2 linked regions of the Homo sapiens genome follow. The protein of the gene in region 2 purifies or fractionates together with the protein of the main gene of each other region. This does not show direct contact. Each region holds a gene or a part of one and is shown on either strand. Other genes may lie near its edges.

What was found.
Region 1: the proteins of DIAPH2 (region 2) and RHOD purify together in Homo sapiens (co-immunoprecipitation; 3 studies listed by BioGRID and IntAct, with this or other methods). This does not show direct contact.

What each region holds. Positions count from the first base shown.
Region 1 is NC_000011.10:67,066,847-67,072,667, forward strand, and holds the end of RHOD (rho-related GTP-binding protein RhoD), read left to right. Parts: coding exon 1-1; intron 2-3,578; coding exon 3,579-3,713; intron 3,714-4,588; coding exon 4,589-4,756; 3' UTR 4,757-5,171; downstream 5,172-5,821. UniProt on the Homo sapiens protein: Involved in endosome dynamics. May coordinate membrane transport with the function of the cytoskeleton. Involved in the internalization and trafficking of activated tyrosine kinase receptors such as PDGFRB.
Region 2 is NC_000023.11:97,597,792-97,604,941, reverse strand, and holds part of DIAPH2 (protein diaphanous homolog 2), read right to left. Parts: intron 5,690-7,150; coding exon 5,625-5,689; 3' UTR 1-5,624. UniProt on the Homo sapiens protein: Could be involved in oogenesis. Involved in the regulation of endosome dynamics.

The sequences.
Region 1 (5,821 bases), on a different chromosome or scaffold from region 2:
GGTAGGTACTGGGGGGCAGGGAGGCATAGCCCCCATAGCCAGGCCACTCCACTCTGCCACCCACCCTCGACCCAGCTGACTGTCAGAGCTTGGCAGGCCCAAAATGATATTGATTCCAGAGCTTTTGGTGTATATATGGGGAAACTGAGGCTCAGAGTGGGGCAGTGGCTTGCCCAGGGTTGCTGGCACAGGGATTTGGTGGCAGCGTCTGCCCTTCTGACTCCCAGTACAGTGCTCCTTGCCTACCCTATGCTGCAGACTCCGAACACTGTGGCTCTTCCCACGGCGGCTCTGCCTGAGGTTGCTGGGTGAGCCAGAGGCTGCTACATCTCCCCAGCCTGTGCCCGCCCAAGGTGCATGAACAGTCAAGTCAGAGTCCAGCAGCTCTGCGTGGCTGCTGGTTCTCAGAGGCTGCTCATGGGCATCAGGGATGTGGCCCCTTGAATTCCTCTGCTCCAGCTGCCTTTAGCCATGGCACAGCCCCTCACCCACTGCTGCCAGGGCCTCCGAGTTTCCGCAGGGTACAGCCCATGACAGTATTTGCAACAACAACAACAACGGTGACAATTTTAAGGACTGACCACGTGCCAGGCAGTGTTCTTGGTACTTGCATGTATTTACTCATTTACTCCCCCGGCCAACCTTATGGAGTATTATTATTCCCGGATCCAGTCACTCGTCCAAAGATACACATCTATTAAAGTGGTAACACTGGGATTTGAACCCAGGCAGGCTGCTCCGCCCATTCATTCAGAACGAATGATTGAGCACATTCGTTCTGGTGCTGTTCTGGGCATTGGGTACCAGGAGAGATGGTGGTGCCTGGGGCCAGGGTGCTAGCAGTGGGGGTGACGAGAAGGGGGCTGATTCTGAATCGGTCTAGAAGGCGGAGTTTGCTGATGATCAGAGTTTCTTGTTGGATTGGATGTGGGTGGGAGGGAGGAGTTTTTTTGTTTGTTTGTTTGTTTTTTGAAACGGAGTCTTGCTCTGTCACCCAGGCTGGAGTGCAGTGGCGCCATCTCGGCTCACTACAAGCTCTGCCTCCCAGGTTGATACCATTCTCCTGCCTCAGCCTCCTGAGTAGCTGGGACTACAGGCGCCCGCCACCACGCCCGGCTAATTTTTTGTATTTTTAGTAGAGACGGGGTTTCACCATGTTAGCCAGGATGGTCTTGATCTCCTGACCTCGTGATCCGCCCGCCTCGGCCTCCCAAAGTGCTGGGATTACAGGCGTGAGCCACCACGCCCAGCCTGGGAGGAGTTTTTACCAGAGCAGCTGGAAGGTGGAGTTGCCCTTGGCCAAGATGACAAGGAGCAAGCTGGGTTCGGGAGTGGGACATCCTAGTGGAGGTGTCCGGCAGGCAGTGCGATGCATGCGTCTGCAGTTCCTCCGAGCAGGCAGTCCAGCTGGGCAGCCTAAATGCAGCTGCACATTTAGAAGCTACGGGTGCAGTAAAGCCTGGGGGAGGCTGCCCAGGAAGGGAGAGCAGCTAGAGGAGAGGAAAGACCACAGGCTGAACCCCAGGGAGAGGAGGAGGAGGGCAAGGCCCCATAAGACCTAGGAGAGCCAGGAGAGTGGGGTCCTGGGGTGAAGTGCAGGCTCAGTCAGGTAGGAGGGAGTGATGCCCAGGGTCGGGGTTATCGAGGGATCAGTAGGAGCAGGGCTAAGGATTCTCTGATGGTGGCCGGGTGCGGTAGCTCACGCCTTGTAATCCCAGCACTTTGGGAGGCTGAGGAGGGTGGATTATTTGAGGAGTTTGAGACCAGCCTGACCAACATGGTGAAACCCCGTTGCTACTAAAAATACAAAAATTAGCCGGGCGTGGTGGCACATGCCTATAACCCAGCTACTTGGGAGGCTGAGGCAGGAGAATTGCTTGAACCCGGGAGGCGGAGGTTGCAGTGAGCCAAGATCGCACCACTGCACTCCAGTCTGGGCGACAGAGCGGGACTGTCTCAAAAAAGAGAGGATTCACTGCTGGGTTCAGTGGGAGCCACCAAGGAAACCTTTCTCATGGGCAGTTTCGGTGGATGCGGGGGTGTGGGGAATCTGCCAGGGACCCCACAAAGGCCCCATTTGCTTCCAGGAATGAGGTAGTTTGATGCCAATTTTTGTTTGTTTGTTTGTTTGTTTGTTTTGAGACAGAGTCTCACTCTGTCTCCCAGGCTGGAGTGCAGTGGTACAATCTGGGCTCACTGCAACCTCCACCTCCTGGGTTCAAGCGATTCTCCTGCCTCAGCCTCCCGAGTAGCTAGGATTGCAGGCTTGAGCCACCAAGCCCGGCTGATGCCAATTTTTATCAGGCAAGTTTCATGCCCAAACCAGCCGACTTCAGCCGACTTAGTGCTCCTGGAGATAGGAAGCCCCCTCCCGGGATCCCCGGCTCCCCAGCTGTAGTCCAGGCTGAAAGAACTCGGCCCTGGTGGCCTCACATTCTGCAGAGCAGCCCTCCCTCCACCAGGCAAGCAGTTGAGGCAGACAGCTGCTGCAACCATTTTGTGAGCAGATTTATTTATTTATTATTTTTTTGAGACGGAGTCTCACTCTGTAGCCCAGGCTGGAGTGCAGTGGCTCCATCTCAGCTCACTGCAACCTCCGCCTCCCAGGTTCAAGCGATTCTCCTGCCTCAGCCTCCAGAGTAGCTGGGACTACAGGTGCACGCCACCACGCCCAGCTAATTTTTGTATTTTTAGTAGAGACGGGGTTTCCCCTTGTTGGCCAGGCTGGTCTCGAACTCCTGACCTCAGGTGATCTGCCTGCCCTCAGCCTCCCAAAGTGCTGGGATTACAGGCGTGAGCCACCGAGCCCGGCCTGGATTGATTGATTTATTTTTATCTTTTTAATTGATTTATTTATTTATTTTGAGATGGAGTTTCACTCTGTCGCCCAGGCTGGAATGCAGTGGCGCGATCTCAGCTCCCTGCAACCTCCGCCTCCCAGGTTCATGCCATTCTCCTGCCTCAGCCTCCCGAGCAGCTGGGATTACAGGCACCCGCCATCATGCCCACCTAAATTTTGTATTTTTACTAGAGACAGGGTTTCACTGTTGGCCAGGCTGGTCTCAAACTCCTGACCTCAGGTGTTCCACCTGCCTCAGGCTCCCAAAGTGCTGGGATTACAGGCGTGAGCCACCACACCTGGCCCAGATTTGTTTTTAAAGGATCCCTTACTTCCTTATATGTTTTGCTCAGTTTGGTGGGTGTCCATGAGGGCCCTTACCCTGCAGAGAGGAAAGATTCTAGAACGGCAGGAGCAGGGTTCTGAGCCCCACCCCCAGGCTCAAATCCTGCCATTTCCAGCCAAGGCCAAGTTACATCGCCTTTCTGTGCCTCAGTTACCGCACCTGTACAGTGGGATTGGTTGTGAACTTGCTGCCACGGCCTCGGGGAATTAATGGGTCCATACGTGTAAATTCTTAGATGAGGTTCTGGTACCAAATAGTTTCTCCCTAGGTGCTGGCTTTGCTGATTATCCATATCAGAGCTCAGGCTGGGGAGCAAGAGAGTGGTCCACTGAGAGGGCCAGAACTCTCCAGGGCTCACACATGCCCCCCACATGCCCCCTCGCCCCCCTGCAGTGGTACCCAGAAGTGAATCATTTCTGCAAGAAGGTACCCATCATCGTCGTGGGCTGCAAGACTGACCTGCGCAAGGACAAATCACTGGTGAACAAGCTCCGAAGAAACGGATTGGAGCCTGTGACCTACCACAGGGTAGGAAACCCAGCCCGAGGTGGGAGTTGGGGAGGACTGAGTGAGGGGACCTCTGGATGCCTCTCAGTGGCACCAGGTGTCCAGAACGCTCAGGGTGTAGGTCAGAGCTGCGGTCGTCTTAGAGGCTGTCAGAGGTCAGAAACTTCCAGCACTTAGAAATGGTCCCTAGAATATTCTGGGAGCCTCCACAGGCAAAAGGGAGAACAAGGAAGTAGGCATATCAGAGTCAGTTCCACCACCAACCTGAGACCCAGAGAGGGGGCCCAGGCAGGCACCCACATATTCAGACCGTGGGTCCCTCTCTGCTACACGTCTGGGTTCATGGGAAGTTCATTTCTTGGTGCCTTGAGAGGCAAAGAGGCCCAGAACGGAGGTTAAAAACAACGAAGGCTGGCAGGGCGCAGGGGCTCACGCCTGTAATCCCAGCACTTGGGAGGCCGAGGTGGGTGGATCACTTGAAGTCAGGAGTTCGAGACCAGCCAGGGCAAAATAGCGAGACCCTGTCTCTACCAAAAATACAAAAAATTAGCCAAGTGGTGTGGTGGCGGGTGCCTGTAGTCCTAGCTACTCTGGAGGCAGAGGCAGGAGAATCACTTGAACCCGGTTGGAGGAGCTGCAGTGAGCTGAGATCGCACCACTGCACTCCAGCCTGGACGACAGAGCAAGACTCCGTCTCAAAAAAATAATAATAATAAAAATAAAGAAAAGAAAAACAAACATGATGAAGTGCATGAGGGCGCTTGGGCAAGCAGGGATACGGGAGCCATGGGTGCTCCGCAGACCCCACCTTCCACTCTTGTCCGGGAAAAGGAAGCGAGAACGTGAGGCCTGCCCAGTGCCCCCTTCACCGCAGCCCCATCCACCTCTCCCTCTAGGGCCAGGAGATGGCGAGGTCCGTGGGCGCGGTGGCCTACCTCGAGTGCTCGGCTCGGCTCCATGACAACGTCCACGCCGTCTTCCAGGAGGCCGCCGAGGTGGCCCTCAGCAGCCGCGGTCGCAACTTCTGGCGGCGGATTACCCAGGGCTTTTGCGTGGTGACCTGAGCGGCTCGGGGCGTCCCAGCGACGCGGGAAGGGGCAGGGCGCTGACCTGCTGCTGAGCTGGCTGGGCTGGACCCGGTCCCTAGGCTGTGACCGCCGAACTCCACTGCAACAGACGGGCGCCACCAAAGCCAGGCCCTGAGGCCTGGGAGTCCTGGACTGAGAAAGGGGGTTCCTGGGCCCACCTGCTCTGTGTAGGGCTCGTCCTGCGGTGCCCGAGAATCACTCGCTAACCCCTATGCCCGGTCCCGGACCGACATCCTGGAGCCGCCTGTGCAGCCTGATGCCCCCTCGTGGCTGCTCCCAGGGCTGCACCTGCCAGGACCTAATGTTCTTAGGTCCCTCTGGCCAGAACCCACACCCGGCCCCTTCCCACCTGTCATACTGGTAACTGTAACAAGAAAAACGACATCACTTATCATTGTGTCGTGCCTCTTTTTTCTGTTTTCTTTTTTTTGAGACGGAGTCTCGTTCTATCGCCCAGGCTGGAGTGCAGTGGCGCATTTCAGCTCACTGCAACCTGTGCCTCCTGGGTTCAAGCGATTCTCCTGTCTCAGCCTCCTGAGTAGCTGGGATTACAGGCGCGCGCCACCACACCCGGATAATTTTTGTATTTTCTTTAGCAGAGACGGGGTTTCACCATGTTGGTGAGGCTGGTCTCGAACTCCTGACCTCATGATCCACCCGCCTCGGCCTCCCAAAGTGCTGGGATTACAGCCATGAGCCACCACGCCCTGCCTATGCCTCTTGTTTCAAGGTGTCTTTACACACACGTTCCAAGGTAGGTAAAAGCCCACCCCATCTAGGCACTGGGATGGGACTGCTTGGATCCAAACCAGCTTTATTGCTTCCACGACCTTGGGCAAGTTCTTCTGGGCCTCAGCTTCCTCACCTGTGAAATGGATCACAGACTAAGCCATGGAACTTTCGGATGAGTAAGAGGGTCATGAGGACCAACACACGCAAAGAGCTTAGTAGGTGCCTAGCACGCAGTAAGTGCTCACAAAAGGTTCGGCCAGGGCCGAGCACAGTGACTCATGCCTGTAATCCCAGCACTTTGGGAGGCCG
Region 2 (7,150 bases):
AAGTCATTCTTGGTCCTGCTTAGAGATAGGTGTTTATTCCAAGGTGAAATGACAGCACAAATCCACAGTTCTACTGCAAGTGAAATACTTCTTCAGGGTGGCTTGGTATGGACACAATCTCCCTCAATACCCATTCAAAGCAGTCTTTGCTTTCACCTCTCCCTTTAGGTGAGGGATTCACGGTATGTAAAATAAGCTTGTAAAGAACCCTTCTGTATCAGAGGTAGTTTTGTGCCTGCACTGTGAACCATAGAAGGCATTTGGTCAAAGGTGTCATAAAAGGGGCAGAAGAGGTACATCAGAGCACAGAGTTGGGATCGATTATTTTTTTCAAGTTAATTGCCCATAGTAGCAAAAGTATCAACCAAAATTTAGAATAGCCTGTCCATCCATTTAACAACAGAGCATGCAGCAGCCTGTGCAGACAATAGCTTTTAGAGACAAACTTCGATCTGGTTTGAGCACCAAGAATGCATCTTAAAAAGTGAAAAATTCATTTGTGTGCAATGAATAGTGTAGTGAGCTGCATGGTGCCCCCTCCCCAAAAAAGATATTCAATATCCTACTCCCTGGAACCTGTGATAGTACCTTATTTGGAAAAAAGGTCCTTTCAGATATAATTAAGAATCTTGGAATAAGGGAATTATCATGGGTAATCTGGATGGGCCCTAAGTCCCGTCACAAGTGTCCTTATAAGAGAGAGGCAGAGGTAGATTATATATACAGAGGGGAAGTGATGTGAAGACAGAGGAGAGGGAGATGCAGTCACAAACCAAGGAATGATGGCAGCCACAAGAAACTGGAAGACACGGGAAGAGTGTTTCCCTTAGAGTCTCCAGAAGACGTTCAGCCCTGCCAACCCCTCAATTTTGGACTTTTGGCCTCCAAAACAACAAGATAATAAATTTCTATTGTTTTAAGCCACTGGGCTAGAGGGTAATTTGTTACAGCAGCCATGGGAATCTAATGCAGATTGTGGAACTGGGACGGATTGGGTACTTCTGTAACAAATGTCTTAAAATGTGAAAAAGGCTTTGGAATTGGATAATGGGTAGAGACTAGAAGAATTTTGGTGGCTGTGATAGAAAAAACTAGATTGCCTTTACCAGATGGTAGTAGTATGAATGTTAAAGGCATTTCTAGTGATGGTTTAGAAGGAAATGAAGATTTTATTGGAAAATGGAAGAAAGGGAATCCTTGTCATATAGTGGCAAAAAGTTTATCTATCTAAATTGTCTACTACAGTAGTGTGAAAAGTTGAATAAATGATGAACTTGGATGTTTAGCTGAGGAAATTTTCAAGTCTAGTGTTAGAGATATAGCTTAGTTTCTTCTTAGTGCTTATAGTAAAATAAGACAGAAAACAGATACATTGACAAAACAGGCTGGGCATGGTGGCTTACACCTGTAATCCGGCACTTTAGGAGGCCAAGATGGGTGGATTGCTTGAGGCTAGGAGTTCGAGAGCAGCCTGGACAACATAGCAAGATCAAGTCTCTACAAAAAAATGCAAAAAATTAGCCAGGCATGGTGGCATGCACCTGTAGACCCAGCTACTTGGAAGGCTGATGCAGGAGGATCCCTTGAGCCTGGGAGTTTGAGGTTACAGGGAGCTATGTTTGCACCACTACACTGCAGCCTGGGTGACAGAGTGAGACCTCATCTCTAATACATTAAAAAAAATTTTTTTTTAAAGAGAAAATAACTATATAAGTGGACAAAAGGAATCAGTATCTGATGACTGGGTAAATTCTGAGCCTGAATTCACAATCTGAATGATTGTAAAAAAAAAAAAAGATGCTAAAATTAGGAGATTCACTGTTAGAAAAGTGTGCTCTGTAGATAAGCCCAAGGGTGTGTCTTGACAACCTTTGGCTAGTGCTGAAGAGGTTAGGCATTAACTTGTGGATTTATTTGACTGTTTCAACAGAAGCCAAGAATAGAGATGGGGTTGTTCAGGAAAAATCTGTGAGGACCCTCTTTTCTGAATGTGTGAATCAATGTGACATACGTAGAAGACCCACAAGATTTTTGAGAATGTTCTACCATCAGAAACACTTCCAACTGGGCCTAAAAGGGACAGAGACAGAAAAAAATGAAAGAAGATTGTGAGACTGCCAGAATTCTACAGGTAGGAAACCCGTTGATAAAACTTCTCAGCTGCAAACATGTGCCACCCTTCAAGATAAAGGAAGCACCATCCCGAGAGCAGAGCTGCAGGTACAGAGGCAGAGGCCCAAGTGTGGGAACAGAGGAAGAAGTGCAACCCATAGGCACAGAGGCAGAGGCCCAATCCATAGTCCAAGAAAGAAGAGCTACAGGCCCAAAGGGTGGAGCCCTGAGAAAGAGGATTACTGCCAGGCCTTGAAATATAACAGAAATTTGCCTGGCTAGATTTTGAAAATGATTGGGACAGGAGACTCCATTCCAATTTCCATTCTCTCCTTTTTGAGACAGAAATGTCTGTAACTGTTATCCTATGCCTGTTCCCACCATTGTAATTTGAAAGCAGATTAACTTTTCTGTTTCACTGGTTCTCAGAGGAAGAGGAATTTGGCCTCAGGAAAGACCATACCCAGAGTTTCACTCATACCTGATTTAGATGATCTAAATGATAAGCTTTGGAACTTTTGAACCGATGATATTTGAATGAAATTTTGGACTTAGGATTGATATAATGGGTTGAGACTTTTGGTAATGTTAGGATGGGATGAATGTCTTTTACACATGAGACAGACATAAATTTTGGGCCAAAGGGCAGACTCTGGTGGGCTAAGAGTGGCTTCCTAAAAGACATAGCCACATCCTAATCCCCAAAACCATGAATTTATCTTATTTGGAGAAGGGGGCCTTGCAGATGTAATTAAGTTAAGACTCATGAGGTGAGGAGATTATCCTGGAGTAATCTGGGTAGTCCCTAAAAGTCATCATAAGGATCCTTATTAAACAGAGGCAGAGGCAGATTAGGTATACAGAGGAGGGTGATGTGAAGACACAGCAGAAAGAGAAATGTGGCCATAAGCCAAAAAATGCCAATAGCCACCAAAAGGTGGACGTGGCAAGGAAAGATTCTCCTCTAGAGCCTCTGGAGGGAGCATGGCTTTGCTGCCCTTCAAAAATGTAAGCAAATAAGTTTCTGTTGTGTTAAGCCATCATATTATTGGTGGTAATTTGTTACAGCAGCCAAAGGAGATGATGGATGCAATTAGTTGTTAATATTTTAAGGATTCTGTACCTTTTAAAAATATTCTGAAGAAAATCTGCATAAATGGTGCTTCTCATGTGTGGCAGTAATATGGCCAACAAAAGACCTTAGTGTAATTTGGTTTCATACTAAAAATGTCACTATATACTTTTTTTGGTGATATACTTTCCAATCATCTAAAACAAAACTGCAAATGGCTAGAGCAGGACCATTACAAATCTGGGAAACAAACCTTTTAACTCACTCAACTATTGGAACTTCATGAAAGACCCTGAAAGGTTTTTTTTTTTAATGTTTGTGAAAAGCATGTGGGATTGCTCTAAATAAAAATATATAAGTTATCAATAATAGTACTTCATTCGTTCTTGTTCACAAACTAGAAAATAAGGCAAGTTTGTATCTGGAAAAGGTGATGATACATATCAGTATTTCTACCTTGACCAGCTTGATAATATAGCAAGGCATATGCTCCCAAATTTTAGTCAGGGTTAACATTTCAAGATCATTCTCCTACAGACTGATAAGCTGTCAAAAGAATTAAAAAAGCCATACCACGAAGATTTCAGAAAAGAAAGACTTTGTAAAGTCAAAAATACACATACTAGGTATTTACATAAATTAGAACCTAAACTTTTGTTGTTGTTAAAAAACAGTGTTACTGCTATGTCCCTTAAATGTGTGTGTGCATGTGTGTGCATTTGTGTATGTGTGTTTTCAGATCGGATAGGACTGTGAAATTTCAGATACTGTTACCCTTTTTGATTTTTCTATTGTAGCAGCTTCAGAGCTTTTTAAAGAAGTATAATACCTAAGTAAGGATGCACTGGAGGCAAAGGCAGCAGTTTGAATCATTATACATCTATATAAAGGAATCATCTGTGGGCTGCTGGTCACTTGTTTACTTTATCTCAGATGGGGATTTGCCAAGCCAGCCATTTGTTCTTCTCTCTGAATATCTACAATGTGCTTTGAATGAGTAGAAACAGTATTTTCTACATAAGAAATATACATGTAAGAAATTTCTTACAATAATCACAATCAATCATCTGCATGAATTAGACTTAAAATTGCACTCCAGAGAAGTTATACCACATTATTTCAATGCATATTTTAAAATAATAGACAGACAAGTTAAGTATAACTTTTACTCCCTAATTTATTTAAGAAAAATGTAGAACCTGTTTTCCCTGCTAGACTTGTTTTGGCAGCATCATCTTAATTTGTTAATATAAGGTAAGTAAGTATGATGATAATTGAGAAGTTCACTTAGTTGGAATTATTGTAGCAAGAGATAGAAATATATACACATATTTACACATACATACATAAAATTTCTTTTTCTTCTTCAGACCACCAAAGTGAAATTGGAAAGAGAGTGGAAAGGGAGATAAAACAATTGACCTTTCAGACAGTTTTCTGCTGCCTCCTGTAAAAAGAATTCTTTTTCCTCTCAGGTTTTCTAGAAGTCTATTCCCTGCCTTCAAGGGACTCAAGGGAGAAAGAAGCAATAGAAAAAAGAAATAAACCACAGAGCATAGGAATCAATATTTGCCTTTGAAATCTAAATAAACGTAATAGAATTTTCAGGTTCATCCCTAGCATAAACATTAAAATGTGAGGGTTTTCTCAAAAATAGCCATATAAAGTATTTGTATAAAGTAGATATCTGTGCATAATTAGAAAATACCTCTTTAAATAAAGTTTAAATCACTTTCCCTAACTGATTCGGTTAAACTTTGGTTTATTTATTTTTAGCAATGAGAAGTGCTTGCAATATCATGCTGAAATGCTAGCTAGACTAATGATAAGTTTAATTTCAGCCAAAGCAGATGAATCCATCAGCTTTCACTTGAGATAAAATTCTAAATAACTCAACTGGGGTGGAGCAGTACTTTCGTGAATTTCCAAAATGGCTTCTCTTACAGTGTGCATAATATTAGCCTCTCTCCAAATCAAGATGCATATTTTTCTTGGCCCTTTTCTATTATATATGTACTAGGGATTGGAAGCTGACACTGGATAATTCTTTCTATTCTTTTTCTTCTCTTTTGTTTTTGGTGGGGGTGACTTACACATTTAAGATTTTAAATTTTTGACTGAGTGTTTTTGAAAGCCTTAGAACTCTTCAATTTCTTACACTTCCATCATCACAGTCAGGTCACACACAATTACAAATGATACACATCTTTACACTAAAATGGAACACATTTTGTAATCCTGATAACTGTGTTCAGATTAGAATAATTGTGGGAGGAGTCTTGCAATAGTATTACAAATGCACACTACTTCATCCAGCTTATCTTGATCTTTGCAGAAATGCACTTATTTCCTTTCCAGCCGCTGAGTGCACACTTTGTTCTTCTCAAAATGCATCATTTTGTTTTTACTTAAATATTTTCATATTCTTTGGCATCAGGAATCACTTAGATGAGATAGCTCCATTGTGGCGAGAGCGTGACCTTTCCAAAGGTACTCGTCTGTTATCTGTAAGACAAACAGAAAAAGGACCAAAAGCATGGTAAGTTTTAGATCTTTGCTATTACATGATGTTAGGTTGAGAAAGGTTTTCAAATAGTCCTGAAAAATCACTTCAAATGAAAATGTAAATAAGTAACAAGGAACTCAGATCTGAGGAGTTCATGCGGCAGCTGCCCGGCTGAGTTCAAGAGTTCTGCAATCAGCAATAAATGACTTTTCTTGGTAAGCGAAGTCAGAGTGATAAAAGAAATGGAAGCAGTCTCTCAAGCACAGTCCCCTTGGAAATAGCAGGCAACAACAAAATTCTTTGGTAAAGATGTTAAATTGAAAAGATCTATATACAGCACCTTTTGTTGGAAAGCACTTCAATTCCCCATGAGTTTTCAATCTGTATGTTGGCTACCTCTAGAGGACACCAGCATAGGCAGAGCAGAAAAGAGTTTTTATTTTTTACAATGATTGCAATATGTGGCAATCACACTAGCTACCAAATTTGCTTGATTGTATGATGTAAAAAAATTCAATATATTATATAGTCATCATGGGAATGAATAATGAATAGGACCTATTCCAGGTCCCATTCCCACCACCCATCACAGGAAGAATAATTATTATAGAGATAACAAAACTTGGAAAACAAAGTTTAAAAGCATTGAAAGTTGCTGAAAATAGTTCTAGCTTTAATAGGGAAAAGGTTTACAGCTCTGCATTGCAATGATCACTACTATGTTATTATCACCTCTGTTTTATGCTCAGCTTAAATGCAATTGATGTGGGGTGAAAATCCCTTTCTGACAAAAGCATAATATACTTAGATTCTCTATTTAGAATGAGACTAGGTCCCTAGAAATAATGACAACCACCAGCACTTACATAAATGCTAACACTTTACACTCGTTAATTTGCTAATTCACACAACATCTCCGGGAGGTAAGCCCATTTCATTCTATCCTATTATCTCTGCTTTAGTGATGAAGGTTACACAGCAAATCAATGGTATGATGGGGGATTATAATGCAAAGTTAATGCCTAAATGTCAGGCCTGCTTTGTTCAGAGTTAAAGGTTGGGGCCTCCCAAGCTGCTACTCATTTCCTCCTTGAGATGATGACGCCCAACTAACACATCCTGCCTGTTGTATGGGGAGGAAAAACTGAGAACTACTGAGGTTTTGCCATGGTGCCGTTCTTGTCTGTGCTAGCATCTCTTGACTGATTTCCCGGTAGTCTGTGGTCAGCAAACAGAGCAAAGCTAACGGGCCTCCATGACCCCAGCCTCATTAACACCACGGTATGTGTCCTGAGCCAACCAGCCATAAACTTAAAGCATACTGAGTGCTTCATGATGCAATAATATCACTGAGAGGTGAGAAAGAAAGAGGCATTTTCTCTACTCAGAGATATATCTGAGTGATGGATTATTTGGGTGTCCTTTTGAAGATACCATTAAAAAATCCATTATTTAGTTTG